Homo sapiens: one gene and its partners. The protein of the gene in region 2 purifies or fractionates together with the protein of the main gene of each other region. This does not show direct contact. Each region holds a gene or a part of one and is shown on either strand. Other genes may lie near its edges.

What was found.
Region 1: the proteins of SLC9A7 (region 2) and DNAJB12 purify together in Homo sapiens (affinity purification with mass spectrometry; one large-scale study listed by BioGRID and IntAct). This does not show direct contact.
Region 3: the proteins of SLC9A7 (region 2) and TMEM131L purify together in Homo sapiens (affinity purification with mass spectrometry; one large-scale study listed by BioGRID and IntAct). This does not show direct contact.
Region 4: the proteins of SLC9A7 (region 2) and TPCN2 fractionate together in Homo sapiens (co-fractionation; one large-scale study listed by BioGRID). This does not show direct contact.
Region 5: the proteins of SLC9A7 (region 2) and TMEM33 purify together in Homo sapiens (affinity purification with mass spectrometry; one large-scale study listed by BioGRID and IntAct). This does not show direct contact.
Region 6: the proteins of SLC9A7 (region 2) and SCAMP5 purify together in Homo sapiens (co-immunoprecipitation; one study listed by IntAct). This does not show direct contact.
Region 7: the proteins of SLC9A7 (region 2) and SNX14 purify together in Homo sapiens (affinity purification with mass spectrometry; one large-scale study listed by BioGRID and IntAct). This does not show direct contact.

What each region holds. Positions count from the first base shown.
Region 1 is NC_000010.11:72,335,142-72,337,919, reverse strand, and holds part of DNAJB12 (dnaJ homolog subfamily B member 12), read left to right. Parts: intron 1-1,223; coding exon 1,224-1,396; intron 1,397-1,988; coding exon 1,989-2,110; 3' UTR 2,111-2,140; exon of another isoform or gene 2,141-2,778. UniProt on the Homo sapiens protein: Acts as a co-chaperone with HSPA8/Hsc70; required to promote protein folding and trafficking, prevent aggregation of client proteins, and promote unfolded proteins to endoplasmic reticulum-associated degradation (ERAD) pathway.
Region 2 is NC_000023.11:46,752,619-46,756,118, reverse strand, and holds part of SLC9A7 (sodium/hydrogen exchanger 7), read left to right. Parts: intron 1-3,500. UniProt on the Homo sapiens protein: Golgi Na(+), K(+)/(H+) antiporter. Mediates the electoneutral influx of Na(+) or K(+) in exchange for H(+). May contribute to the regulation of Golgi apparatus volume and pH.
Region 3 is NC_000004.12:153,633,786-153,637,211, forward strand, and holds the end of TMEM131L (transmembrane protein 131-like isoform 1 precursor), read left to right. Parts: intron 1-406; coding exon 407-495; intron 496-1,646; coding exon 1,647-1,786; intron 1,787-2,515; coding exon 2,516-2,791; 3' UTR 2,792-2,926; downstream 2,927-3,426.
Region 4 is NC_000011.10:69,069,432-69,072,931, forward strand, and holds part of TPCN2 (two pore channel protein 2), read left to right. Parts: intron 1-998; coding exon 999-1,064; intron 1,065-1,924; coding exon 1,925-1,989; intron 1,990-2,491; coding exon 2,492-2,592; intron 2,593-3,195; coding exon 3,196-3,277; intron 3,278-3,483; coding exon 3,484-3,500. UniProt on the Homo sapiens protein: Intracellular channel initially characterized as a non-selective Ca(2+)-permeable channel activated by NAADP (nicotinic acid adenine dinucleotide phosphate), it is also a highly-selective Na(+) channel activated directly by PI(3,5)P2 (phosphatidylinositol 3,5-bisphosphate).
Region 5 is NC_000004.12:41,938,429-41,941,928, reverse strand, and holds part of TMEM33 (transmembrane protein 33), read right to left. Parts: intron 3,328-3,500; coding exon 3,233-3,327; intron 2,734-3,232; coding exon 2,546-2,733; intron 1-2,545. UniProt on the Homo sapiens protein: Acts as a regulator of the tubular endoplasmic reticulum (ER) network by modulating intracellular calcium homeostasis. Mechanistically, stimulates PKD2 calcium-dependent activity. Suppresses the RTN3/4-induced formation of the ER tubules.
Region 6 is NC_000015.10:75,002,063-75,005,562, forward strand, and holds part of SCAMP5 (secretory carrier-associated membrane protein 5), read left to right. Parts: intron 1-3,500. UniProt on the Homo sapiens protein: Required for the calcium-dependent exocytosis of signal sequence-containing cytokines such as CCL5. Probably acts in cooperation with the SNARE machinery.
Region 7 is NC_000006.12:85,506,859-85,510,358, forward strand, and holds part of SNX14 (sorting nexin-14), read right to left. Parts: intron 1,959-3,500; coding exon of another isoform or gene 1,912-1,958; exon of another isoform or gene 1,462-1,911; intron 1,456-1,461; coding exon of another isoform or gene 1,418-1,455; exon of another isoform or gene 1,202-1,417; coding exon 1,110-1,201; intron 432-1,109; coding exon 375-431; intron 1-374. UniProt on the Homo sapiens protein: Plays a role in maintaining normal neuronal excitability and synaptic transmission. May be involved in several stages of intracellular trafficking. Required for autophagosome clearance, possibly by mediating the fusion of lysosomes with autophagosomes.

The DNA of each region.
Region 1 (2,778 bases), on a different chromosome or scaffold from region 2:
ACACACAATACATGCACACACATAATACACATGCACACATACACGCACACATATACACACAGAGTTTTGCATATAATTTCGGCGGCTTTGTGACTCTTCCCTGCCCATCTCCCCTGCCAACCCTGACGAAGAACCTCTGCTCCTCGGCTCTGGTTGGGCTTCCTGAGGCTGTGGAAAGAACAGGGCACTAGAGTCAGACAGAGCAAGCATGGCTTAGAATCCCAGCTTCTCCACTAAGAAGCTGTGTGACCCTAAACAAGTTATATAACCTTGGTTTCCTCATCTATAAAATGGGAATTATAACATCCACCTGCTGTGGAAATTAATGAGTAATGCATATAAAATGTCTGGCCCACTAGAAATGCTCAACAATATTAGTTTAATGAATGCTTAGTCTCGACTGCCAGGAGTGAACTTGAGGACATTTCATGAGCCGTTAGGGGGTCAGCTCCCCTCACTGATGTCCAGCACCTGGCCCAGGGTCAGCTACACAGTGGGTGCACATCTTCAGTGGGGTGGGTCCCCCTCTCCCAAAAGGTGGCCACCTCTGGCTGGGAGCTGGCAGGACCCTTCTCAGCCAGCAGGGGGCAGAGTCGGTCCACTGGACCCTGGCCGCCGGCTCAGGCTCCCTGTGGCCAGATGCCAGCCCTTTTCCCTGCAACTGGAGAGATGTGAGGAGCAGAGGACTAGGGCAGGGACTGTTGTCCCCAGAGCACTGGTCCTGTCTGGGTGTCAAGGCTCTTCCCACAGCTGACAGAGCCTGTGATTGGAGCTGGGAGGATAAGGCTCCCTGGAGCCCTTCCTGTCATTTTGTTCCTAAGCCTCTTAACCCTACACTGGGAACTCCTAGATAGGCAGGCAAGCACTCAGCAACAATTGGCTTAGGGGATGAATGGGGAGATGGAGGCACAGAGGCAGAGCCCAGATTCCCTCTCAGGTCTCCAGTTCCCTAGACCAGGCCTCTCCCCAAAGGCCCCAGGTCAGCAGTGTGGTAAGCAGGGATCTAAAGGCAGGGCGTCCTGCGGTCTGGGCCACGTGTGTGGGAGGACGCTGCCTTTTCCTCAGACTCTCCTTTCAGGGAGTGTGCGGGTCCCTGCTCTGGTTTGAGAGGGAACCAACTACTCCTCTGGTCTGTGCGGCACCTCCTGTCTTGGGGCCCATACCCCTAGAGTGCCCTGGGCATGGGGACCCGCACCCACTTTGAACCTGGTATTTCTGGCCAGGTCCGTGGGCCACATCCACAGGCGAGTCACTGACCACCTGGGTGTCGTCTACTATGTGGGAGACACTTTCTCCGAAGAGTACACAGGCTCCAGCCTCAAAACAGTCGAGCGGAATGTGGAAGATGATTATATCGCCAACCTCCGGAACAACTGCTGGAAGGAGAAGCAGCAGAGTGAGTGTGGGGGGAAGGCGGGGGCTGTATTTGGGAGGTGGCTTGGGATGAAGCTGGAAAGCAGGGGAAGGAGAGAGCCCTGCTCACCCTGTGCTCTGAGGGCCCAGCCCCTGGCACTGCCCTGCACCAGCCACCTCCCAGACAAGAGCTGGTCTCCACTCCTGTGTTTCTCCGGGGCTGGGAGCCAGGGGCCACCTGGTAGTTTCCTCAGGTTCCCGTAAATCACTGCCATCAGCCCAGCATGTTGGCTGCCAGAGGTGAGTGTGTAGAGATGGACTGGAGCGGATGGATCCCTGGCCACCCCCTGACTGTGCTCCTGGATCTGTCTGTGGGACCCTGGGGAGGCCTGACCAGGATGACAGGGTCTCACCTTGGCTGGCCTCACTGCATTCTAGAGAAAGGCGCCTCTGTCACCCTCGCCCACATAAGGACTGTAGTCTCTGCTCCTCCATGGTCTTCCTAATGGGAGGCCAGCCCTGCCCAAGCCCCGGGCATGTACCAGCTTTCCTCCGCCCTCCACAGCCCTCGCAGGCTTCCTTGCAGGCTTCGGGAGGTACTGGGTGTGCACTAACCCTGTCCCATTGCTTTGCAGAGGAAGGCTTGCTGTACCGGGCACGCTACTTTGGCGACACAGATATGTACCACAGAGCACAGAAGATGGGCACCCCCAGCTGCAGCCGACTGTCAGAGGTGCAGGCCTCCCTGCATGGATAGTCCTGGGCCAGCCACACCACCGAGGTCCAAGTATGAGCCAGGGCTGCCTCCACCCTGCAACTCCTGGCAGCTTTGGCCCTGGTCATGAGCAGAGGAGGGAGGGGGAGAAAGGGAGGAAGCCTGGTGATTGTGGCAAAGACTCCTGTCCCCAGCCTGACCTCCAGCCTCCAGAGACCGAGCAGCTGTGGGGCCTGCTGGGAAACCAAGGTCGGTTTCCGCCCTCTAGCGATGCTGTCCTCCCCACTCCTCCGCTCTGCTCCCTGGCTCCAGGGGTGTGGGGGACCCCAGAACCAGGCAGAGTGGGAACTTGAAACTGTTGCTGAGGGCCACCCGGGGCTTCTTGGTCCACTCCAGCCATCAGTCAGCACGGCCCTTTCTCCAGCACAGCAGACTATTGTCCGTGCCCTGGTATTTAGGCCATCACATATGGTGGGGCCCAAGAGAGCCCCATATGCACACTGCCTGCCTGATACCAGGAAGAACCATGTGGGAATAGGTGGGCCAAGAGCCCTCCCCTTTCTCCATCCCTCCAGCTAGGAGGAAATGGAGCAAGATGAACAGGCAGCCACGAGGTGGGTGGGAGCTGGCAGTCTTGGTGGCGGCAGGGGCCGCGGGCCCTGACCACCCCCCTCTGGTGGGATCTGAGGCACTCTCTCGAATGCCGTCAC
Region 2 (3,500 bases):
CTTTATTTTGAGAAAAAGTTTTAAAATGTAATTTCTGCCACCTTTTTGTGTTTAAGTGACACTTTAATCTGAGAAGAACAGCGTTTACATTTAAGATAAATTTATATATATATAAATTTATATATTTGTTGGTATAGTCGTAAAATATCTCTGGAAGGACATGCAATAGATGAGTAACATTGGTTTCCTTGGGGGAGAGGAACTAGATGGCTGTGAAATAGGAGTGGGAGGGAGAGGTCACCATATAACCTTGTATGCTTCTTGGTCTTGTAATAGCTTTTTTTTTTTTTTTTTTCCAAGACGGAGTCTCACTCTGTCGCCCAGGCTTGAATGCAGTAGCGCAATCTCGGCTCACTGCAAACTCCACCTCCCGGATTCAAGCAATTCTTCATCTCAGCCTCCTGAGTAGCTGGGATTACAGGCGCCCGCCACCATGCCCGGCTAAATTTTGTATTTTTAGTAGAGATTGGGTTTCACCATCTTGGCCAGGCTGGTCTTGAACTCCTGACCTCCACCCACCTCAGCCTCCCAAAGTGCTGGGATTACAGGTGTGAGCCACCGCACCCGGCTGTAATAGCATTTTAACGTGCTCCTCAAATCACTCAATTTGACGCCTACTTCTCCCTATTTAAATCACATTATGTTATCAATTTTCTTCATGACTTTTCAATTCTTAATTGTGCCCTTGGAGCTTTTCTGAGCCCTGTGTCTGGGATGGAGATAAAATGGGGAAAGGGGAAGAGATTTCTCTCTCTCTCTCCCTCCCTCCCTCCCTCTCTCACCCTCTCTTTCCCACTCGCTCTCTCCCTCTTTTTCCTTCCCTTTATTCCATTATCCTCAGAGAGTAGTCAATGTTACATTAGCAGTGATGTGCACAAATAGACCCCATAATAAGTGCTTGCTTGGATGCAGAGGACCTAAGGAAAATAAAAGACACACTGTGAATGCTTAACGTTTAAACAGAAAGGAACTCCCCCACCCACCAAAGGACACTTATAAGCATTCCTCCCTGACAGGCCAGGGCAGCTACAAGGGAAGGTAGCTACAGACCTAACTCCCCAGGAAGGTTGAAAGCAGCCCCCAGACCCCACCACTGGAGCTGCAAGGCAGCGGGGCCAGGCACTTGCCTGCCACCAGTCTAACCTGTTTTGTCAGGCCAGGGAGCTCCCAGCTGTCTGTCTCTGTTATGTGATTAAGTGCCATCCTAAAGTTACTGGGCCCTACATGTCTTTGCAGCAGAAATAGAAAGTGTTTAGGGCAGGGAAAGTTGGTATAAACAGACTGTGCCAGTTCATTGTGGTTCTCTCTCAGATGTACGGTAGTTCCACTTCCCCCATAATGTTTTTGTGACAACTGATATGGATCCAAAATAATCTGACTCTGCCATGCTAACCCACCACCTGCTTCTCGCTTCCTCCTCCTCCACCACCCCATCACCTTTCCAAAAATATGTTGATCAGCCCCTCTAGGTTCTATGGGTTGTGGGCTCACTGTTGCTGTGGTGGAGCTGGATTGCTAAGCACAGCCTGAGAGTGGGCTCATAGGCAGAGTCTGAAGGGGAAAAAGATGACTCTTTGCGGTAACATGAAATTAACATTTGAACCTGTAAGCAAACATTTTGGAACCATCTCCTTCCTGGTTAATCAGGAGTCCCCCCTTTTAAGAGCCCCTCACTTTGGCCCCAGTTGGGAGCAGCTTCTGTATGGTCTCACTTTGGTACCAGATAACCCTGGGTTCAAATGCTGGCCCTGTTGCTTATAAAACTGTATAGCATTGGATAAACTCTCTGAGCCTTAGCTTCCTCTTTTGGAAAATGGAGATTATGTTACCTCACAGAATTGCTGTGTTATTGAGATATTCTAAAGGGTCAAGTGCAGTGTCTGACACTTAAGCACTTGGTAAATATTAGTTCCCATTCTCATTTTAGGCTTTGTGATTCTTTGGCAGGCTTTACTACTTGAGGTTTGTTCAGTAGTGGACTGTTGTAATTTTAAAATGCATTAGGACACAGTTAGTGGAAGTGAGGAAAATTGTATATTTTGGGGTGAGCTTTTGGTTAATACCTAGAAAAAAATTTACAACACACCTACCCTTTTAAAATTTTATTTATTATTATTATTATTATTATTATTTGAGACAGAGTCTCACTCTGTCGCCCAGGCTGGAGTGCAGTGGTGCGATCTCTGCTCACTGCAAGCTCCGCCTCCTGGGTTCATGCCATTCTCCTGCCTCAGCCTCCAGAGTAGCTGGGACTACAGGCACCCGCCACCATGCCCGGCTAATTCCTTTTTGTATTTTTAGTAGAGACGGGGTTTCACCATGTTAGCCAGGATGGTCTCAGTCTCCTGACCTTGTGATCCGCCCGCCTCAGCCTCCCAAAATGCTGGGATTACAGGCATGAGCCACCGTGCCCGGCCCACACCTACTCTTTTATTCAGCATTTTCAATTCTTGGACTTTCAGAAATCTATCAGAAATACTTGTGCTAGCATGTTGCAATATATAGACAGCAATATTTGTTGCAGTGGACATAAGTTGCAGAACTCATCAGATGAGACTGGTTAAATTGTAGCACATTCCCATTAAGGAATACTATGCAGCGATAAAAAGAGGTGTTTTGAGATGTCCTTTTAAGGCTACTGTCCACACATAATGTTGTGGAAAAAAAGCAAGGCACAGAACATCATGTATAGTATTATTCTATTTGATCTTTCAATAACTATATACTGTATATACACAAACATGATGTATGTAATTTATATATGATATATGTGCTTTTATGGAAGGATATGCAAGCTTTATCCTTTGGGAGCAGGATGAGTTGTTGGGAGAGAGAGAGGGGAGGTGGTACTTTTCCTTTATATTATTCTAAATGGCCTGAACTTTCTTTAATACTGACACATTACTTTTGCAATTTAAACATTATTTAAAAATGAAGCAAATAACTTATGTAGCAAAAAAATGCTTTATAAACAGAAGATTGTACTATGTGGTTACATAGCATTTTCCTTGGATTGTCGAAATGTTCTTTGTAAAGCGGTCTCTGGATATAAAGAATACTTTTACTTATTATTTGAAAGTTATAAATGGAAGTAAAATGTTTGTATCTTAAAAAATAGAAAAATGACATTTACTAAAAGCATTTCTTAGAATATTAAAAAGTTAACCTTTGTGGAACGCTGTAATTAGAAAAATCACAATTTTTCAACCTCTAGTGATAGTTTATTTAGACAAGGGTTTTCAATGAATTCCAGAATCCTAGGTGAAAGGTTATTGGGGAACATGGTACTTGCAAAGTACTATCACCCCACAGGTTACTTGCCTGTTGCAAAGAAAAGAAGGTACCTTTACAGTGAAGAGGTCTGGCAGTCACCATCTTATAAGCAAGTCATCAAATGTATCCTTGCTCATTGTGGGACTATCTAGTATCATGGTATACAGGAAGTGTACAGCTTTACCTATGTAGTATCCTTCCTGTATGTGTTTAATCTGAATCAAATC
Region 3 (3,426 bases), on a different chromosome or scaffold from region 2:
GTTATGCTTGTCTAAGATGAATGCTGGTCTTGCTCTGAGTGGACGTTTTTAATGGAACATGTTTAAGTCCTTCAGATGTGCACAAAGACACTTAAAGGTATTCCAGCTGTTCTTTCACAGTGCTGATAAAGCCACGGCTCTCTATTCTGTCTCTAGTTAGACTTAACAAGCATAGTTAAAAACAAGTGTGCTCCTAGTCCAGCCGTCCATCCTGCAGATGGCATGTCACTAGTGATCAGCATTTAGTAAGCCTTTGATTCTGTGACTTGAGAAAGTACATCTTTTATTTTCCAAAATTGGGGAATTCACAGTGATTAGGATGCTAGGCAGTAAAATCATTTTCCATTTTCTTTACTTGATGTCTTGACATCCTGTTTCTGATTAGACCACTTGTTTTTTGTGGCAGTTTCATTGATTGGAGTGCAACATGCGAAGGCCAGTTTTCCAGCGCATACTGTCCATTGGAATTGAACGATTACAATGCCTTTCCAGAAGGTAAGGGCTCTTCAGACAATCCCAACGCCATTATTTTATTCTTAGAAGGTCAAAGCAGGAAGTGTGTGGACTAAGAAGAATCCTTTTAACAGCGAGCAGACTTTGAGAATGAGCTTGCAGTAGACTGCCGAATGGCTTCATGTGGATCCAGTTGTGCACTGATGCCATATATAATTTTATATGACCCTCAAAAAGCCCTCAATTTTGGGTGTCTGGGGGCTTCAAAAATAACCCTAATCCATTTAGTCCTTCCAGTTAGGTAGAACTAGGTCATTTGGATCCATGTAGATGTAACATTGTTGGGTATCCATTGGGAAGCCGGGGCTTTAGCTGCTCGCTCTTCTTTTTAGGCAGTCAAGTCCCATGTGAAATAGAAACATTGGCCTGCTTCCTATTATGTCCTTAACTTCTCTGCCCTTGGGTGGTGCTGCAGAAGGAAGGAAAGAAGCTTGGAGGGGAAATTGTGGAAAATTGCAGATGCTTGGGCTCAAGCATCTGTAATAATAAAAAAATGAGAGCTATGGGATATCCCTGGTCAACTGGAAAATGCTCTATTGTGCACTACTGTTGGATCATGGTTTCTTATACTAGAGCTGCCCTTTCAGGGAAGGGATGTATCATTCTTATCTAGATTTTGATACATGCATTGCTCCATGCTAACCACAAGGGGGTGCTTTGGGAATGTTATGATTGTGAGGGTCTGTGTTCATTATGTTCTTAATGGTATCTAAGGAGTCCTTGGTTTTGGATTGCTGTATCAGCCCAGATGATATATGTGTAGGTCGCTGAGGTTGGCATGACAGGTAATAAAAACATTTTAAAGACTGGCAAGAACCTTGACACTATTTAGATATCTAGTAGTATTTTAATGTATTTTGTGTAATAGAAAGATTCCCATCAAGTGATCAAATAGAGAAAAACAAGCCAGGAGGAAGACCTTCCACATTGAGGGCTTCCCAGGTTGTGTGTCTGATAAAAAGTTTTAATCTTGAGAATGATGTTGCAACGACTCTCCTGGTCCACACGGACCAAGTATTTATGTCTGTAACTTGTCAGTATAGTGAGACCTTGAAAGCTTTTTTGCCTGAGAGTGAGAATTCAGTTCTCAATGAAAATGTTTACCTATGATGATATTCTCCCATTCTTTGTAGAAAACATGAACTATGCCAATGGCTTCCCCTGTCCTGCAGATGTTCAGACAGACTTTATTGATCACAACTCTCAGTCTACCTGGAACACCCCACCCAACATGCCTGCTGCCTGGGGACATGCCAGTTTCATCAGCTCTCCGGTCAGTGTTGCCCATCCTGTGCCGTGAACCCCTGGGCAGCTCTGAATTGTTTCCACTGCTTCCTTAATCCTGGTCTCAGCTAGCTTTAGCGTTGGGTTTGGACCAGCCAAAGCCTGGCTTGCTTCTTTTAGATCACAGAAGCCAGGGCTGGCCACCCTCTGAAGGAAACTGACATGTAATAATTAGATGGGTGGGGTCTTGCAGACATTGACATTCTGGCCACCCCAAATGAAAAACATCCCCAAACACACCAAGCAATGGTCCTTTGTAGATAAAATTGAACATGGGCCAGCCCTCTGTGTGACACAGCTGTCTTTATGTGGACTCACTGATCTTTACTTCACCGATACGAGATGAAAGTCCCAGGAAGGTCAGTGGGTGGTCAGGGTCCCAGAGCTCCCTGCCTGTGAGCACACCCTCCCTGCTCAGAAGCCCGATGGCTTCTCCTTTCACATCCGCTTGACACTTGTTTTTGTTTTTTTCCAGATAAAGGGTATTTGGCCTGTGGGTTCTTCCCCGGGTTGCAAATAAGTTCATCCCATTAGATGAGGATTTCACAATCCTCCCTTTGAGAAAAAATGGAGTTAAAGCAACCCAGATTTAAATTGAGAGTAGTCTAATAACTTCCAAGTAACTTGATAGCATTGTAGTATTCGCTGATGTGTATTCACCTTTCTAAGGCTTTTTTTTTTCTTTTAACTTATTTTTCCTTCCTCATTTATACTTCAGCCCTACCTCACAAGCACCCGAAGCTTGTCTCCAATGTCTGGACTTTTTGGTTCCATCTGGGCCCCGCAAAGCGATGTGTATGAAAATTGCTGCCCCATCAACCCCACCACGGAACATTCGACCCACATGGAAAACCAAGCGGTCGTGTGCAAGGAATACTACCCGGGGTTCAACCCGTTTCGCGCCTATATGAACCTGGACATATGGACTACCACAGCGAATAGGAATGCAAATTTCCCACTGTCTAGAGACTCGAGTTACTGTGGGAATGTGTGAAAATAATTGGATTTTTAAACAATGTGAATAAAGAGGCTTGTGTTTTGATTACTAGTGTAAACTGGTTATTGAGATAGATTATGACATTGGTGGATATTTTGGCACTTTTATATGAAAATAAATTTTTTAATGAAATCTGGGTGCTCTGTTTTTTTTAACTCTTCATAAATCAGTGGTAAAAACAAAGCATCCATATGTCAGAACTTTCAAAAGTCAAGAAGTGTGTCAGGCATGCCGAATGTTTTAAATCTGAACACGGGAGACGTCTTTTTTTTTTTTTTTTTTTTTTTTTTGAGACAGAGTCTCGCTCTGTCGCCCAGGCTAGAGTGCAGTGGTGCGATCTTGGCTCACTGCAACCTCTGCCTCCTGGGTTCAAGCAATTCTCCTGCCTCAGCCTCCTGAGTAGCTGGGATTACAGGCGCACGTGTGCCACCACGTCCAGTTAATAGAGATTTTCAGTAGAGACGAGGTTTCACCCTGTTGGTCAGGCTGGTCTCGAACTCCTGAACAAGGGAGACTTCTAAGAAGGTAGGAGTTGAGCAAGAAATGGCTGCTATGGTTTTCCTCCTCCTGAGCATCACAACCATCTGGGGAGCTTTCAAAAAATGAAGTTGCTCAGCCGTTGAGAACTGCTG
Region 4 (3,500 bases), on a different chromosome or scaffold from region 2:
AGTGGGAGCAGGACCGTCTGAGTCCTAGGAAGTGACCGCACTGGGAGCAGGACCGTCTGAGTCCTAGGAAGTTACCGCAGTGGGAGCAGGACCGTCTGAGTCCTAGGAAGTGACCGCACTGGGAGCAGGACCGTCTGAGTCCTAGGAAGTGACCGCACTGGGAGCAGGACCGTCTGAGTCCTAGGAAGTGACCGCAGTGGGAGCAGGACCGTCTGAGTCCTAGGAAGTGACCGCAGTGGGAGCAGGACCGTCTGAGTCCTAGGAAGTGACCGCACTGGGAGCAGGACCGTCTGAGTCCTAGGAAGTGACCGCACTGGGAGCAGGACCGTCTGAGTCCTAGGAAGTGACCGCACTGGGAGCAGGACCGTCTGAGTCCTAGGAAGTGACTGCAGGGGGAGCAGGACTGACTGTGGGGAGGGCTGCAGGGAGGTTTCAGCTCTGTGTGCAGAGGGACATCCTTGATAGGTAGGGAGTTCCCCGTCCTGGAGGGTGTGCGAGCAGAGGCAAGAGATCGAATTTGGACAGGAAGGCCTTTCAGCCCTCCCAGGAGACCTCCTTTCTTTTTTTTCCTTTTCTTTCTTTTTTTCTTTCTTTCTTTTTTTTTTTTGTTTGAGATGGTGCCATGCTCTGTCACCCAGACTGGAGTGCAGTGGTGCAGTCTCGGTTCACTGCAACCTCCACCTCCCAGGTTCAAGTGATTCTCCTGCCTCAGCCTCCCGAGTAGCTGGGTTTACAGGCATGAGCCACCACACCTGGCTAATTTTTGTATTTTTAGTAGAGATGGAGTTTTACTATGTTGGCCAGGCTGGTCTCGGAATTCCTGACCTCAAGTGATCCACCCGCCTCAGCCTCCCAAAGTGCTGGGATTACAGGCGTGAGCCACCACGCTCAGCAATGGAGACCTCCTTTCTATTGCAAAAGCAAATAGTGTAGCGTCAGGATGGGAGTGGGATCAGGTACTGAGGTTGTCAGTTTCTGTTATTTCTTTTTTCTTTTAGTGATGATTCCTGCGTATTCCAAGAACCGGGCCTATGCCATCTTCTTCATAGTCTTCACTGTGATAGGTGAGTGCAGGTAACGTGGCCAGCATTTTGTGACAGGATCCCGAGAGCTCAGGGACCGATACACCCTGCTGCCTCCACGACCTGAAACTTCACATCCGTGTTTTTCACTCCAGAGATCACCCCAGGGATCCCCTGCCAACAGCTTTTAACCCCAGAGATCCCCCACCAACAGCTTCACCCGAGGGATCCCCCACCCCACGGCTTCACCCCAGGGATCTCCCGCCAACAGGTTCACCCCAGGGATCCCCCACCAACAGCTTCACCCCAGAGATCCCCCACCAACAGCTTCACCCGAGGGATCCCCCACCAACAGCTTCACCCCAGGGATCTCCCACCAGCAGCTTCACCCCAGGGATCCCTCACCAACAGCTTCACCCCAGGGATCCCCCACCAACAGCTTCACCCCAGGGATCCCTCACCAACAGCTTCACCCCAGGGATCCCCCACCCCACGGCTTCACCCCAGGGATCCCCCGCCAACAGGTTCACCCCAGGGATCCCCCACCAACAGCTTCACCCCGGGGATCCCCCACCAACAGCTTCACCCCAGGGATCCCCCACCAACAGCTTCACCCCAGGGATCCCCCATGCCACGGCTTCACCCCAGGGATCCCCCACCAACAGCTTCACCCCAGGGATCCCCCACCAACAGCTTCACCCCAGGGATCCCCCACCCCACACTTTCTGTTCTGTCCCCACCATTGACCTCGTCATCCTCCCACCTGTGACTGCGCTGGCCAGGCCATGTTTCCATTTGATAGGGGACGCCCCCGGCGCTGTGCTATCCTGTGCCGGCCACCCTTGCGTTGGTTTTGCTGCTGTACTGGTGGCGCCCCTGACCGTGGCTGTCTCCTCTTGAAGGAAGCCTGTTTCTGATGAACCTGCTGACAGCCATCATCTACAGTCAGTTCCGGGGCTACCTGATGGTGAGCGAGCTCCCCAATGCTGGCTGTGCCTGGAGCTGCCGGGAGGCCAAGCAGGGTGTGGCTTGAGATGAGCAGCTGGGTGACCCTTGCTGGCCAGGCCCCTGGTGGGACGGGAGGGCAGGGTTGCCACCTCTTGTGGATCAGCCGGGGATGCACATGTGTTGTTGCTCTAGCCACTGCCAGAGATGGCAACTCCCAGGACAGCAGACCCTAAACCCTCTTGAGGGGGAGCTGGGGGCGCCCCCAACACACAGAGGAGAAACGCGGCCCAGCATATTGCGCAGCACGCCCGTCAGACTCCTTCCTGTGCGGCCTGTCCCGGGAGTCTGACCAATCCTCTCATTCCTGGGGGGTGAGGGGCTGCCCCCAGGCTGTGGGGAACTGGGCCCCCCCCCAAGGCTGCCCAGACTCCCCCTCTGCCTGTTCCCCAGGGGAGGGAAGGGTCGGGGGTTCTGAGCTGGGGGAGGGCTGATCCTGCCGTTCATAGCCTTCCTCTTTGCAGAAATCTCTCCAGACCTCGCTGTTTCGGAGGCGGCTGGGAACCCGGGCTGCCTTTGAAGTCCTATCCTCCATGGTGGGGGAGGGAGGAGCCTTCCCTCAGGCGTGAGTGCTGGGCATGGACCCTCTTCTCCCTGAGGGTGGGTGCTGTGGCTGCTGGGCAGGGGCCGGGTGTTCATTAGGGGCTTCTTGTGCTTGGCCTGTGCCTCGCCCCTGCTGGCTGGCACCCGACTCATGGAAACCACCATGTCCCTGGCGCTCTGTGGTTCCCGGCGTCCTTGTCCTGAGTCCATGCCTTTGTCTTCGTGCCCCCCGGGGACCCTGGGCTGGTGAAGGGCCGAGTGGCCCGGCCTTCTTGTCCCCCTTTGTGCTCTTCTACCCTTCTGTGCTGACTTAGGCAGCAGAGCCAGAGGTGCGTGGGCCAGGTGTCCACACCACCATCCTGCTTGGAAATGAGGGCAGAGAGCTTGAGGGACATTGCAGTGGAAAGTTCTGGTCCTGACTGCTCATAGTGGTGAAGTCAGTTTGCGCCTTCTCGGGGGGACGGCAGTGGCAGGATGCTCGTTACAGGGGCTCTTGGTGTGGCTCAAGCTGCAAAGTGGCTTCATGGCAAAGCTCAAGCCAGACGCCAGGGCAGGAGGACCCAGGCCAGGGTTCCAAGGGAGCCGAGCTGGCTGTGCTCACCGGGCTGTGGGTTTTTCCCTGCAGAGTTGGGGTGAAGCCCCAGAACTTGCTGCAGGTGCTTCAGAAGGTCCAGCTGGACAGCTCCCACAAACAGGCCATGATGGAGGTACCCGCCCCCTGCTCCCAGCCTCCTCTGGGCTCCTCCCGGGAGGTCACTTGGGCCAGCAGCCCCTTTTCAGGACTAGGGGTGTGGCTTCAGGTCACCTGCAGCATTCACAGCCCGTCAGGGTGGGGTTGGGGCTGGGGGCGCTCACCTTCGAGGGCGCTCACCTTCCCGTGCGCCCCTGCTGACCTGTGCTCCTTCCTGTGCAGAAGGTGCGTTCCTATGG
Region 5 (3,500 bases), on a different chromosome or scaffold from region 2:
AGATTCATAATCTTAGTCTTCAACATTACTCTTAAACTATTAATACAATGTATTTAGAAAAGATAAGAGGTGAAATGCCCTATCTGTTATTAATCAAGCAAGGACAAAATATCACTTTTATAAGAAGAAGGATCAGAACGCAAATCTGTAATATTACTTTGGGCCCGCTTTTATTTATTACCATATCACTTTAATAATCAGATTAGCATTTGCTGCCAATTACTAGTTTATGTTATTCCCACTGTTTACTACATTCCCTTTGTAAGAATTTAAGGAATATGAAATCCTTAATCTTCAACATTCCCAGGAAAGAGGGGCTACCAAATAACCAACTGTATAAAAAGGCAGAAAGGTTTTCTTCACCAGTCATGAGTCTCATTTGGCAAGACCTCAGGATTCACTCAACAAAACTTACTGAGTGCCTGATCTGTGTGAGGCACTGTTCCCAAAGTTATTGACGTATTCAGTTTACCCTACATTGAAACACATTTTCTGTCATTTCTATTTCTCCCTCCAAAGAAATTTTAAGCTACTAAAAGGCATGACCAAAAATCTCTACATAACTTCCCGTTATAGCTCAGAAAGGCTAGAATTTTAACATTGGTGACTGCAAAGCACTTCAATCAACAGAGGCTGGTCAAGCCAATAATATGCCAAACAAATGTGATTATCATTTACAGTTGTAGTATAGTAATCATTTAATGAGTTTTACCTAAAAATAAACCAATACAAATTATGATGGGACATTACAGACTCATGCATTGAAACAGGAAAAATTTTATCCTTACATTTCAAACTACCCACATTATCTCAGTGAAGTGAGTAATTTAAAGGGAATCTCCATATACTGAATATTTAAATGAAATTACCAGGTTTACCCACATACAGAAAGAAATATTTTTAATGTATACTTAAGTATTACTCACCCACTAACTGTAGATAAGGTAGAGCTTTTAAGTTAGAAAGACTTTTTCAGCATTACTACTTACTAGCCAATGTGTGGGAAGTGAATACTGACAATCAGCAAATCAGCATCTTTATTAAAAATATACCACAACAATTTTTTTCAGAGTGCTACAAAGATTAAATGTCAAGTTCTTTTTTTTTTTTTTTTTTTTTTTGAGAAGGAGTCTCGCTCTGTCGCCCAGGCTAGAGTGCAGTGGCACAATCTCAGTTCACTGCAACCTCCACTCCAGGGTTCAAACGATTCTCCTGCCTCAGCCTCCCGAGCAGCTGGGACTACAGGCACATGCCACCATGCCCAGCTAATTTTTTGTATTTTTAGTAGAGATGGGGTTTCGCCATATTAGCCAGGATGGTCTCAATCTCCTGACCTCATGATCCGCCCACCTCAGCCTCCCAAAGTGCCACCGCACGTGAGCCACCGCGCCTGGCCTAAATTCAAGTTCTTATACTGGCAAAATAGGTGCTCAGGAAATTTCGGTTTCCTCCTATTTCTTTTCCTTAAGACTTATAAAAATCTATTTAAAAATTTGATACTTCATGAGCATAGGTATCTAAATAGGTAATATTCAGTCTCAGAGGAATATTTTATTGTGCTTTACATAACATACAGATGTATCATAAATATTCAAAAGCTCTTAGACCAGCACTTCTCAATGCACAAAATGATTTGCAGAGATAATCTACAGGAAAAAAAACAACCACAAATTTAAGTTTAAAAAACCCTACTAACTCTCTTAGTTTCACAACACACGTTAGAATACCAAAGCCACTATAGTAAAGAACCCTATTTAAAAATGTTTGACCTGGCTGGGCGTGATGGCTCACGCCTATAATCCCAGCACTTTGGGAGGCAGAGGCAGGTGGCCTGGGCAACAGAGCAAGACTCTGTCTCAAAAAAAAAAAAAAAAAAAAAAAAGAAAGTTTAACCTAGTGTTCACTATAGAACCTCTTCCCCATTTTTCCCCTCCTTTATGGACTACCCAGTATCATCCCACAACACACCTTTGAAATGTGAAAACATACAAATTCCAAATGAATTATTTCTCATTAGCTTCACGGATTATCCATGTGTGTCCTTATTTTCTACTCTATACACAGCAAATATTAATTTCTTTGTATTGATTATCTCATTACCTGCTTAAATAAGTTGTTTCTTGGTTAAATTCCATTTGTATCTAGTTCACTGGGGTTAAGATGGAAAGAGCTGAGGACCTCTCTTTTTTAAAGCAAGACATCTGGACACTTTGCCAAAAACGTGAATTAAATGAAAAAAATGTAAATATTAAAGTAAGTTCTGCGTAAGGTTGTGCTTCGAAGGGGAATTTGAAAATATCCATTCTAATAGGGAAGCTTACAAGAGGCAAGAACAAAGATAGTTTAAAATTCCTAAATCAGCTCTTCAAAGTTTAGATTTCACATTTTAAAGTCAGAAATTCTTACACTAAACATATCTTCATTCAAATGAAGTGCCGAGAACAAACCCAGGCTTCATGGAATGCCTTCATTGCTGAAATAATCAGAAGAGATCTCCTATATGCTTAGTTGGCAATTTCATTGTTAACAAGGTAGAAAAGGATACTTGTAACTGGATAGGAATTTACAAAGATGAGTGAATACAACAGGTAGTGGCAGCTGTCCTCTAACAAAGCCTGGGCCAGGAATGCTCTGCTTAACTGGAAGTGTGGTAATCTTTGATGCAGCCTCAGAGCACTGGTAAGAGCATTTGCCAGCAAAGCACGTTGGTAAAAGCTTGCTGCTTCATGCAACCTGCAAATTACCAGAGGAGAGGTTATCATGAGACATAAACAACTGCAGTGTCTCTTCCTCCTTTGTGAATTGCATCATAATTGCACAACACCTAAATCACTTGTCAATAGAAAAAAATTACATGAACTTATTCTACCGTTTTAATAGCTTCACTTCATATATATGCCCAACTGAATTTCTTATAATCAATTTATAAAATTGAATTTTATAAAGCAGGACCTTCCTGTCAAGTAATAAGTAAAAATGAAAAAAACATGAACTTATCTCATTCCCACACATCAATTTTTCCTTGGATTTTCAATGTGTTAGTTTCACAAAGCACAAGATATAAAATATTCCTCTGATAATGTTATTAGGTTGTTAGTACCTGAAGGCTGGAACTTGTATTTTATTTGTCCCTAAACCCTTTACAGGTTAATAAGTCTTACACCTAAAAGGCACTCCATATAAACTGACTCAACAATTGAATATCAAAGGCAGCAATATGTATAATACATACCCAAGAAGAGGCAGAACAAACAGAGCAGAGCAGTAAACTGTGAACAAGCGAGAAAGCCACATTGCCGTGTCCAGTTTATTGGTCATCATGAATTGCTAAATTTAAAAAGAAAAATACTGTAAGCTATGCCTGCAAATCATGTTTTTAAGCATCAAGACTGTGTGGTTTTTATGTCTACTCAAAATATTTTAATCTTCCTCCATTTGTTTTTTTAGATCATTAGGTGAAAACTCTAAGGCAATTACATGTTTCATGTATATGCTTAATG
Region 6 (3,500 bases), on a different chromosome or scaffold from region 2:
ACCACCGCACTCCAGGCTGGGCAATAGAGTGAGACCCTGTCTCAAATAAAAAATAAAACAAAATTGAATGCCTGTGAAAATAAAATAATAAAACAGAAAATTGAAGCAGACATCCAAGATGCTCTCACTGCCCATCTAAGACCTCAAACCTGCCTGCATCTGCTTGGATCCTGTTCGGCTTCCCACCTGTTAGGATCAAGGCTTGTCCACCTCCTTGCACTGGTGCCCCTGTGTCTCCCTCTTCACGGGCTTTGTCTATCAGGTAACATCTGTCTCTACTGTAATTGCAACCTTTCTATGTATCCTACACATCTCTGGCTTATTTCCACCTAAAATGACCCCCAGCTGCAGCCCTCCCTGGGCCCTCTCCCTACCCCCATATCCTACCCAGGTGGTACCCTATCTCTATTCTCTCTGTATATTGTCAGCCAGGCTTCTTTATCACTGCTGTCACCACCAAAACGATTCTTGCTGGATTCACAGCTGACTCGATGCTGTTAGTGTCATGAACGCGTTAGTCCCGGTAGTGCCATCCTTTCACATGGGAGCCCTCAGTGGCATTATCACATTTGTCCAATCTCTGCCCCTGGCTATGGAGACTCCACGCTCTCTGGGCTTTCCTCGTGTCTCATCAGCTGCTCCTTCTCATTCTTCCCCAACTATCCTATTCTGCTTGCCTTTTTTTTTTCTGCTTAACTTTCTTGACTTTTTATTTTTTTGAATAGGTAGTGCATTTATATATGATTTACAGTTCACAAAGATGTTCCAAATTTTGTCAGTTCTAAGATGAACATTTTGATATTTCTGAAAACATTTTCATGTCTGTGTTTTAAAATTTCTGGCATCTTACAGTTACAAATTGGCATTTTTATTTTTATTTTTTGGAGATTGAGTCTGGCTCTGTCACTCAGGCTAGAGTGCAGTGTGGCACGATCTCAGCTCACTGCAACCTCTGCCTCCTGGGCTCAAGCGATTCTCCTGCCTCAGCCTCCTGTGTAGCTGGGATTACAGGCGCACGCCGTCACACCCGGCTTATTTTTAGTAGAGACAGAGTTTCACTGTGTTGGCCAGGCTGGTCTCGAACTCCTGACCTCAAGTGATCCGTCCATCTCGGCCTCTCAAAGTGCTGGGATTACAGGCGTGAGCCATGGTGCCCAGCCTGCAAATTGGCAATGTTTTTTCTTACTTTTGGTCAATAAAATAATGGTCTGTCTTAAAACTGATGATGTCATCAATTATATGGAAATGGTATAAAGTTATATAGTAAATATTCTGCTTCCCACCTACTCTATATCCATTCAGTTCCTTTGTTCCCCAGAGAGCCACAATTACCATATTTTTTTCTTGATATCCTTCCAGAGATTCTTTGTGCATATATTGTCAAATACAGATATGTATATTTCCCCCCACTTTTTATTTTGAAAAATTTCAAAGCTACAAAAAAGTTTAAAGAATAGGGCAATGGGCTGGGCACAGTGACCTCATGCCTGTAATCTCAGCACGTTGGGAAGCCAGGGCGGGTAGATCGCTTGAGCCCAGGGGTTTGAGAACAGCTTGGGCAATGTAGCGAGACCTCGTCTCTACAAAAAATAAAAAAATTAGCTGGGCATGGTGGCGCACACCTGTATTCCCAGCTACTTGGGAAGCTGAGGTGGGAGGATTGCTTGAGCCCAGGAGTTCGAGGCTGCAGTGAGCTATGATTGCACCGCTGCACTCCAGCCTGGGTGACAAAGTGAGACCCTATCTAAAATAAATAAATAAATAAAATAATGCAGTGAACAACTGTATACCCTTCTCCCATCAATTATTAACATTTTGCAACATTTGCTTTATCTTTTATTTTTACTTTTTTTTTTTTTGAGATGGAGTTTCGCTCTTGTTGCCCAGGCTGCAGAGCAATGGCGTGATCTCCGCTCACCGCAACCTCCGCTTCCGGGGTTCAAGCGATTCTCCTGCGTCAGCCTCCTGAGTAGCTGGGATTACAGGCATGCACCACCATGCCCGGCTAATTTTGTATTTTTAATAGAGACAGGGTTTCTCCATGTTGGTCAGGCTGGTCTTGAACTCCCGACCTCAGGTGATCCGCCCGCCTCGGTCTCCCAAAGTGCTGGTATTACAGGCGTGAGCCACCACGTCTGGCCTATTTTTACTTTTTAGAGACAGGATCTTGCGTTATTGCTCACTGAAGGCTCGAACACCTGGGCACAAGTGATCATCTTGCCTTAGCTCCTCATGTAGCTGAGACTACAGGCACACACCACCATGCTTGTTTCTGCTTTATGTATATGTATAAAATTTTTTCGCAGAACCGTTTGAAAGGACGTTACAGACCAGACACTGCTTCTAAAGACCAGCGTGTGTCTTCTAAGAACAAAGGTGTTCTACAGGCCGGCATGGTGGCTCACGCCTGTAATCCCAGCACTTTGGGAGGCCAAGGCGGGTGGATCTCTTAAGCCCAGAACTTCAAGATCAGCCTAGGCAACATGGCGAAACCTTCTCTCTGCAAAAAATACAAAAATTAGCTGGGCATGATGGCACACACCTGTAGTCCCAGCTACTCAGGAGACTGAGACTGGAGGATCTCTTGAGCCTGGGAGGTTGAGACTGCAGTGAGCTGTGATTGTGCTGCTGCACTCCTCCAGCCTGGGTGACAGAGTGAGACCCTGTCTCAAAAAAAAAAAAAGAAAGAGAGAAAGAAACAAAAACATGCACACATACAATACCCAAGAAATTTAATAGTGAATAGTAGTATCTACTATGCAGCCTATATTCAAGTTTCTCTAGTTGTCCTAAAAATGTCCTTTATAGCTGTGATTTTAAAATCCAGGACCTGGTTGGGCGCGGTGGCTCACGCCTGTAATCCCAGTACTTTGGAAGGCGGAGTTGGGCGGATCACGAAGTCAAGAGATGGAGACCATCCTGCCCAACATGGTGAAACCCAGTCTCTACTAAAAATACAAAAATTAGCTGGGTGTGGTGGCGTGCGCCTGTAGTCCCAGCTACTTGGGAGGCTGAGGCAGGAGAATCGCTTAAATCTGGGAGGCAGAGCTTGCAGTGAGCCGAGATCGTGCCACTGCACTCCAGCCTGGGTGACAGAGTGAGGCTCTTGTCTCAAAAAAAAAAAAATCCAAGATCCGGGCCTGTAATCCCAGCACTTTGGGAGGCCAATGCAGGCAGATCACCTGAGGTCGGGAGTTTGAGACCAGCCTGACCAACATGGAGAAACGCCATCTCTACTAAAACTACAAAATTAGCTGGGCGTGGTGGTGCATGCCTGTAATCCCAGCTACTCCAGGCTGAGGCAGGAGAATCGCTTGAACTTGGGAGGCGGAGGTTGCGGCGAGCCACGATTGCACCATTGCACTCCATCCTAGGCAATAAGAGCGAAACTCCGTTTCAAAAAAAAAAAAAAAAATTCTGCCAGGCTTCCCCATTGCATTTGGTTGCATGCCTCTTTTGTCTCCATTAATTTAGATAAATTCCCCCTGCCAATTTCTGTC
Region 7 (3,500 bases), on a different chromosome or scaffold from region 2:
ATAAAACTTGCTTCAAAAATACTCTAGTTTCTGACTTACACAGCATACAATGGTGCAGACGATAACACTGAGCTTGGCCTATTCTAGTGCTAGGACTTACACTCACTTCTTCCCCTGGAAAGACTATATAGGGTCCCTATCTGCTTGTAATTAAAAAGGGATGAAGTCAAAGCAGAAGCTATTCAATAGCTGTCCCCCAGAATTGTTTGGGCATGTTTAATAAAGAAAATACAAAAGGCAATTTGCTGAGGTTAATTTTTTAAAGAACCACAGAGAACAGAGACAAGGGTTTTCTTACATTTATGTCCCTAATTAAAATAAATGTCAGCATACCATTAAGAAAATCATGAATAAAATTACTGCTTTTCAGTTACCTTATTGAGCTCTGGAAACAGTTCCTGTATCACAATGTCCAATAAAACATAAGTCAGCTAAAGCACCAAAAAATAATAATAATAAATGTTAAGGCACTAAACACAAAAACCATAAAAATGATACACACAAAATTAAAGATTGTGGTTACCTCTAAGTGGGAAGGCAGGGAATGGGACTGATAATATAAAACAAGCACAAAAGTAGCCTCAGTAGTATCAATAATGTTCTATTCTCAAAATAGGTAATAAGTACACATGTGTTTGCATGAGGACACTTTCATTATGCCTCATTAATTCATTTTTATGTTAAATATTTGAATTTTTAGAAAAACAAGAACACAAAATCACAACTGTATTGAGATCTCAACAGAATATATAAAGCTTATACATAGTTTACATAAACCATAAACATAAAAATGTTAACTGGTTATTCTATGTGACTTGAATAATGGAATTATCCATTTTTAATTTTTTACTGTATTTCATGAATTTTCTATGCCAAATTTTCTACAATTACTATATATTAATTTTAAATCAAAATAATTCATCTTATTTAGAAAAAACTGAAACAAAAAGAGTAACTCAAATAAAACTTTTTTTCTATCTGAATGTTTAAAATTATATTGCCTTGGTTTAGTATAGTGTCATTTATACAACTAATGAGTTACCAGACACCTTACTACGTCGTTCACCAAACCTAGCCAGCATGAGTTTACGAGCTTTAATGAGCTTTACCTGCTTGTTGAGTACTGGTTGCTGTAAGCCATCAAACAGAAGTCTGATGCTTTCATACTTGGTTTCTTCACCAATACACTTGACTAACAGATCTAAACAAAAAGGCCAAATGTGAAATAATTTTATATTATAAAGTGACTCACCATTAACTGGATCATAAAGCAAAATCACCACCCTGTTTCCCAGATACTAGGCAAAAACTGCAAATCAATACTCCCCAAACCAGTGTTTCTATAAGAGGCTCCTGGATAAGAGGTTTCTATGGTCAAGTTGACAAATGCAGTATCATGTATCCCATTTTTGGAGATTCACAATGCACAAGGCATAATGCAAACTCTGAGAAATGCTGCAGTAAAAAAAAAAAAAAAAAAAATCTGCTAGTTGGAAAATAATACTTATTGTATTACCCCACTAAGGGAAAACAAAACAAATTAAACCCTAAAATGATGTTTGTACATCTGTACATACATGTATAGAAATGCATGGAAAAATGTAAGGATTAACACCCAATGTAGGATAAGCCGACTTCTACCCAGTGGGCAGAAGATAGCTTCTACTTTTTATTCTATATATTTTCATAGTGCTCTTAATATCAGAAAAAAAAAGTTTAATTTTTAAGGCAGACTTTTCTCAGTGAATAAGAACACCTAATTTCTGGACTTTTGCATAAGTTACTATTAACCATCTTACAAACCAATCATTTTGGGAAATATAACAAATATTTAAACACTTATTTAGGGTCCAACGAGTTCAGATTTGTGTCTGGCTGCATAGATGTCATGTACCACTGATATCAATTCTGTTACCAAGAAAAGTCAATCCTTATTAAGATCTCCACTGAATGCTTCCCTAAGCAGAAAAAAAAGAAGTTATTCTTATATAAACAAGGTACTCAAATATTTATCCTTTTTCCCCTATCATAACTAAACTCCTAGTGTTGGTCATAAAAAATTCTAATGCTAGGAGACAAAGCCAAATTTAATTTACAATAGGCATAGTACATCCTTGGTATTTTCAAGATATGTGGCCCAATACAAATCTTTGTTAATCCTCAAACTCACCAATACTACATGGAATTTCCCAATTAATATGCATGAAACTAATGAACAAATATACGTAATTCTTTCACATCCTTCAGGTGTCACTAAGTAAGAGATGAGGAGCAGAGGATAACACAAAGGAATGGTAAGCTTGCTCAAGAGCTAAGTTACTCTCCCAAACGGGAGTCTTAAAGTGAATGTGGTTTGAATTTGTGCCTCAGCAAAATAACAAATTACTATATTCTCTGGCTCTCCATGTTGTTTCTGAGTATCAAAGCTGAGACTGTTGAAAGTATGAATGCTAAGGGTCATTATATCAGAAAACAGGTAAAAAAAAATTATTTCATCATTTGCCTACAGAAAATTTACTCAAAAACAGCTTATGTTCAGTTTTATATTCAGAGCAGATATTTAAGTTAATTATTTTCACAAGGAAGAGCAGAACTATTCTAAGGCTAGTTCCTCAATATTAAGAATTCTCTAAGGTTCTGTCCTAAGACCTCCTCTTTTTAAAATAAACTTTACTTTTTAAAGTAGTTTTGTGTTCACAATGAAACTGAGCAGAAGGAAGAGATTTCGCATATGTTCCCTGTCTTGTCTCCCCGACTATCAACATCCCCAACAAGAGTGTACATTTGTTACAACTGATAACACACATTGGTACATCATTATTACCCAGAGTCCATAATTTACATTGGAGTTCGTTCTTGGTGTTGTACGTTCTGTGGGTCTGGACAAATAGATGATGATATGTAACCATCATTATAGAGTAGTTTCACTGCCCCAAAAAATCCTCTCTGCTCTGCCTATTCATCCCTCCCTCCCCTCCAATCCACTGTCTTCTTAGTTTTGCCTTTTCCAAAACAGCAGATAGTTGAAAATATACAGTATGCAGTCTTTTCAGATTGGCTTCTTTCTCTTAGTAAGATGAATTTCAGGCTCCTCCATGACTTTTCATGATGTGACAGCTCATTCCTTTATAGCACTGAATAATATCCCATTGTCTAGAAGTATGAGTTTATTTATCCATTCACCTAAATAAAGAACACCTTGGTTGCTTCCAAGTTTTGGCAATTCTGAAGTTGCTATAAACATTCATGTGCAGGTTTCTGGGTGGACATGTTTTCAACTGCTTTGGGTAAATATCAAGAAACATAATTGCCAGATCTCATGGTAAGAGTGTGCTTAGTTTTGTAAGAAACTGCTCACCTGTCTTCCAAAGTGGCTACACCATTTTGCATGCCCACCAGCAATGAATGAGAATTCCACATGTTCACCAGCAAATGGTGGTGTTGGTGTTCTGGATCTGGGCCATTCTAACAGGTGTGTGGTGGTATCTCATTGTTTTAAA